2 separate regions of the Homo sapiens genome follow, and region 1 is linked to region 2. The links come from fine-mapping of genetic effects on gene expression. A gene starts in region 2. The other region holds a variant in brackets. All regions are shown on one strand. Distances are from middle to middle.

What was found.
Region 1: its variant is fine-mapped to the expression of DOC2B in whole blood (TOPMed, PIP above 0.99).

Annotation. Positions count from the first base shown.
Region 1 is chr17:202,091-204,997 of GRCh38, forward strand. No RefSeq gene overlaps it. Among named protein-coding and RNA genes, the nearest start is that of LINC02091, 16 kb to the left of the region's middle. The variant G/A (reference allele first, on the strand shown) is at 1,109.
Region 2 is chr17:179,841-182,747 of GRCh38, forward strand. It overlaps DOC2B (double C2 domain beta), which reads right to left and starts at 1,810. Exons shown (of 9, transcript NM_003585.5): 1 at 1,267-1,810. The coding sequence starts at 1,639. RefSeq lists enhancers at 166-732, 2,194-2,695.

The sequences.
Region 1 (2,907 bases), 22 kb after region 2:
CGGGTTGAAATGTGCCCTTTAAAAGCATTTTTCCTAAACGAAGACAATTCCTCTCCAAGAGGAGCTGTTCCCTCCCCAGCTGTTCAGAAAATCCAGGTGTGTTTCCACCTGCAACAATGCCGAGCTGTCAGCTTAGACTTGGAAGGCGCTAAGAGCTGGGGAAGGCCACATTTGGGGTCTGGTTCCAGGCCTTGCGGGTCACCATCCCTGGCTGTATTAGTCCTTTCCTGCACTGCTATAAAGTACCCAAGGCTGGGTAATTGATAAAGAAAAGCAAAGTAATGGGCTCACGGTTCCTCAGGCTGTACAGGAAGCTTGATGCTGGCATGTGCTCAGCTTCTGAGGAGGCCTCAAGAAACTTACAATCATGGCAGAAGGCTAAGGGGGAGCAGGCATGCCACACGGTCAGCGCAGCAGCAAGAGAGTGAGGCGGGAGGTGCTACCCACTTGTAAATGGCCGAGCTCGTGAGGACTCACCAAGGCGGACGGTGCTCAACCAGTCATGGGAAAACCGCCCCCGTGATCTAGTCGCTTCCCACCAGGCGCCACCTCCAACGCTGAGGGTTACAATTCGACATGACACGCGGGGGGGACACAGATCCAAACCACGTCATCAGCTCTTTCAGAGGGAGATGGCTCTGGACCCCACTTTAGAGTCTGGCTGATTTGCTCTCCCAGGTGCGCCTGGCACAGCTCTCAGGTTCTGCAGGAGCCGCTGGGCTTGGACGAAGGGCCCTCCCGCAGTGTGAGGAGCCTGGCGACCTGGCCCGGTCTCACCCCACAGCCTAGGGCAGAGATGCCACAAAGTCACAGACTTTCAGGGCCAAGAGACCCTGGAGTGCGTCTGACTCGGCCTCGTGTTTCACAGGGAATCTGAGGCCCGCACTGGCCAAGTGACCTGTCTGTACTTACACACTCTGGAGGCAGCAGAGTGGAGGAGAGTGGTGCTATGGCCTGAGTGATTTATTTTAGAATACAGTCATGCATTGTATAACGAAGTTTGTCAATGACAGGCTGTATATCCAGCGGTGGTCCCATAAGACTACAAAGCAGCTGAAAATTCCCGTTGCCTAGTGAGGTTGCGGCGTGTAATGTCACAGTGCAACAC[G/A]TTATCACTCGTTTGTGGTGATGCTGGTGTGAACACACCTATTACACTGCCAGTCACATACGAGTGGACAGTAATGCCCTGGGCCCTCACACTCACCACACACTGACTCTCCCACAGCGACTCCAGTCCCGCAAGCTCCATTCACGGGAAGTGCTCTATACACCTGTGTCATTTTAAAACATCTTTTATACCGTATTTTTACTGTACCCTTTCTATGATTAGCTACACACATAATTCCACGGTGTCGCAGTTGCTACATGCTGCACAGGTTTGTAGCCCAGGAGCCCAGGCTCTCCCACATAGCCTAGGTGTGCTGTAGGTTCTGCCACTTAGATTTACGTCCGTGCTCTCTATGATGTCTGCACAATGATGAAATTGCCTGACAACACATCTCTTGGAAGTATCCCTGTCGTATCCTGGTTGTTAGGTGACACATGCCTGTACTTCTGTGTGAATGAGTTTGAGTAAGATCTCATCTGCACACACATTAAGGGCTGGCTAGCCTTATTAGCATAAGGAATGTGGCAGTGGGTTTTCTTTCATTTATTTACTGTTTTTGAATAGGGTCTTGTTTTGTTACCCAGGCTGAGTGCAGTGGCGAGATCATGGCTCACTACAGCCTCCAACTTCTGTGCTCAAGCAATCCTCCTGCCTCAGCCTCCCAAGTAGCTGGGACTACAGCTATAGTGATTTTGATAGGGGGGGAATTTGTTGGGGGTCACTGAGGCGGGCTGGGGCACACAGACCAGGGCTCCCCACGAGGGCCTCTGAGGCACACAGACCAGGGCTCCACACAAGGGCCCTCTGAGGTACGCAGACCAGGCTGAGGCACAGAGACCAGGGCTCAAGAGCTGCTCTGCCCAGGATTCCTGTGGCTGCTGTGAACTGAGTGCTCCTGGCCGAGGACCCACAGCTTCTGGGAAGTGTAGGTTGGGGCTCCTGATCTGCTGGCCCCTCCCTAGGGATGCAGAGCACACAGGCCCTGGGCCTGGAGTGTTTCCATCCATCCACACATCCTTCTTCCCATCAGGACACTGGTCCATCCTCTGTTCATCTGTCCATCCTCTCAGATGTCCTTCAGCACATTGGTCCATGCAGAATATCTATGCACCTGTCTCTCCATCCATCTGTCCAATGCTCCATCAGTCTGTCCATCATCCATCCTCCCATCTGTCCTCCACCCACCCACCCCCACCATCCCCCACCCAATCATCATCCATCCAACTACCCCCTATGCCCCCACTCACCCTTCCCCCACCCAGCCATCCGTTAACCCCTCCCCCACCCATCCTTCCCCCACCCATTCCCCACTCAACTATCGCCCTACCCATCCCCCACTCCTCCACCCACTCACCCATCCATCTCCTCACCCATCCCTCACTCATCCAGACCTCCATCCATCTCCTCACTCACCTGCCATCCACCCATCCCCCAACCATCCTCACCCCTCCACCACCCACTGACCCATCCCCTACCCCTCCATCTACCCATGCATCCATGCATCCATTGATCCAGCAATATTTCTTGACAGCTAACTAGGGACCCAAAGGTGAATAAGCCTTGACTTCTGCCTTCAGGAGCCGGGCTCTAGGGAACCCAGCCTTGCCATGCCACGTCTGGAAGCAGAGCCTGGGAAGAAGGTGCAGCGACTGATCTGGGCAGGCCCCTGCTGTGGGGGCAGGGATGACAGGGCCCAGCTTTTGGTTCCCTTTTCCCCATGAAAGAGCCTGGGCAAAGGTGGAGGCGATGGCAGTCGGGAAGGAGGGAGCAGGGAGGGAGAAGCTTCATTTGTCAGCTGC
Region 2 (2,907 bases):
AAAGTGCAAAGCAGGCAGTTTCCCCTACAGGGGCCCTGCTCTAACCGGCCACTGCTGATGGGCCTCCCCAGGTGGGGCGATGGGGGGTCTGTGCCCCGGGGGCACTGGTAATCCCTACCTTCAGCTTCTGGTGGCACATTTGATGCTTGGGAAACTCCAGGCCCGCAGCCCACAGGCCCTGGTGAGTGCCCAGGCCAGGCGCAGACATCCCTGCTGCGCAGGGGAGGGGCAGCACCAGCCCTGGAGAAGGGCCACATCCCGGGAAGGGCTGGGGTTTGACGAGACGCTGGTTTTCCAGGTCTCAGTGACAAGTCTGGAGCCACAGCTGAGCTAGGAGGGGGTTCTCACATGCCATCCCCACCCCGCGCAAACCGACTCCTCACTGGACTGCGACCTCTTCCGGCCTCGGTTTCCCAGCCAGTCCCGGCTCGGGCCGGACAGGCACCCTCGGGGACGGGAAAAGGCGCCAGGAGCGCCCACCGGCCGGGCCTCGGTCCCGGGACTCCGGCGCTTGCCTGCTCCCGGGGGCTCAGGGCTCAGTCCGGGAGGAGGGGGAGCGGGCTGGGGGGCCCTCTCTGCCCGGGGGCCGCGGGCGTAACAGGTGGGCGAAGGTGCGCGGCCCTGGCGAGGGCTGCGGCGGGGTCCATGGACACCGGAGGAGGAAACGCCAAGGTTTTTCCAAAGGACAAGCGGCCCCGCGGTCCTCCTGGTCCTCTGCTCGCGCGCCAGCAAAGCAGCTGCGCTCTGCGGGCCGCCGGGACCACGCGGGAGGCCGGGCCGCTCCCAGCCTCGGGCCCCTCCCCAGCTCGCCCCAGCCCCGACCCTCGGCCGCGAGGCCCTCCCGGAGCGGCTGGCGAGCGGGGAGCGACCGCGCGGCCGGCAGCAACTGGTGTCTCCCCGGGACGCAGCTCCGCCCTTCCCGGGAACAAAAGCAGCCGCCCGCGCCGGAGCTCCGGGAGGGCGGGCTGGCAGGGAGGGGGCGCGGCGCCGGCTCCGAGGAACCCGGCCCCGGAAATGGGACACCCCCAGGGGGTGCCCCCGAACTTCCCTCCTGTCCGGCCTGGGTCGGGGGAGGGCTCGAGGCCGGTGGGCAGGGCGCGGAGAGCGCACCGAGTGCGCCAGGGGCCCGCAAGCCCGCGGCGGGGTTGTGAACCGAGGCAGAGCGCGAGCGCGCGAGGGGGACCGGCGGAGGGAAGCCGCGAGGCCGTGGGGGGGCCGAGCCCGAGCCAGGGGAGGGGGCGCGAAGTCGGCGCGTGGGAAACTTACTGCAGTCGTCCGACTCGTAGCCGTCGGCGTCCGGCTCGTCCTCCGGCGGCTTGGCTGGCGGCCGCGCGGGGCTGGGACCCGGGCTGGGGCCCGGGCTGGAGCCGTAGGCTCCGAAGAGCTGGTCCACATCCTCGTCGTCCTCGCGGGCGCCGTCGGAGGGGCTGCGGCGGCCGGCACCGGCCACAGCCGGGCGCGCGGGGGCGTCCGGGGGTGCAGCGGCTCGGGGCCCGGCGTCCGGGGGCAGGCCCCGCGGGAAGCGGGGGAAGTAGTCGGAGATCTGCTTGATGGGACGGATGGGGCCGGGGCACACGTCGATGGCCATATGCTCCTGGATGCTGATGGTCGCCTTCTCCCCGCGCCGCCGGAGGGTCATGCAGGCAGCGCCGCCCCGCCCCGGGCGCGGCCCGGCCCGGCGCGACCCCGGCCCGGGGGCGGCTCAGCAGGCCCGGCGGGGCGCGGCGGGGGCTGCGGGCATCGCCGGCCGCGCCCCCGGACGGCCCTGACTTGGCCGCTGCCCGCTCCGCTGCGGACGGCGCGAGCGAGTGCCAGAGGCCGGCAGGCAGGGGGCGGGCCCAGCCCGCGTCACCCGGCAGCAACCAAGCAGGGTGAGTGTGCGGGCTGCGCGGGCGGCGCGGAGCGGAGGGAGCCGCGCGGCGCCACACTCACTCGCACTCGCACTCACACCGGCGTGCACGCCGGCCCGGGACCCCGCGCGCGCACACTCGCGGCCAGGCAGGGCCGCCGGGCGCCTTCCGCTCATGCACGCCCGCGGCACAAGCTGGGAGTCAACCCGGCAGGGACCCGCAGGACGCGCACCCACACGTTCCCGCGCGTGCCAGCCCACGCTGGGCTCCGCTCGCTCTCTCGGGACACACGCAGGTGTGCAAGTGCACACATGCGTGTGCAGAGACACGTGGTGGAAGCATCCGCTCGCTCACACCGTAGGTCACACACGCAAACGTCTGCATGCGCACATGGTTGTTTTAGGAAGCTGTGACACAGTACACCCCCAATGCACAGGCGCGCACACCTGATGGAGCACACACACAGGTGATCAAGGGCACCCAGGGCACAGGCTTCCCTACCCCCAAGCACCCCTAACAAGATGCACAAACATGAGCCCATAGAAGTGATCAGGGGACCCTGGGCACAACTCCTTCTCTCCTCCCCCTCTAGCAGGACGTGGAGTCACACTCCTAGCATGTAGGGACAGGTTGCCTACACACGGGCAGGACATGTACACGCTCAACTGCACAAGGACACCGGGGCTCAGTCTGTGCACACATATTCTCAGGTCACATACAACACAGCACTCTAACCTCGGGTCAGTCCCTCACTTGGTCAGTGAGTACAGTCTGAAGGACCCCCCGGGGCAGGGTGGCTGAGAACCTGCACAGGGCCTGGTCAGGAGGGAGTGAGGGCAGGGCCTGGGCGGTGAGTGATGCAATAAGGCTGGGCGGCACGCTCCCCCCACCCCCACTCCTACTCTAGGCCTCCCACACGGTCAGATCACTAAACAAATCCCAGAGGGCCCAGCCCTGGCTGTCCGGCTTTCCGGGACCAGAGCTCTGTTGGGAACTGCTGCTGCTTGGACAGGTGTGTTCCCGGAAAGCCCTGGGCATGGATGGAATCCTGTTTACC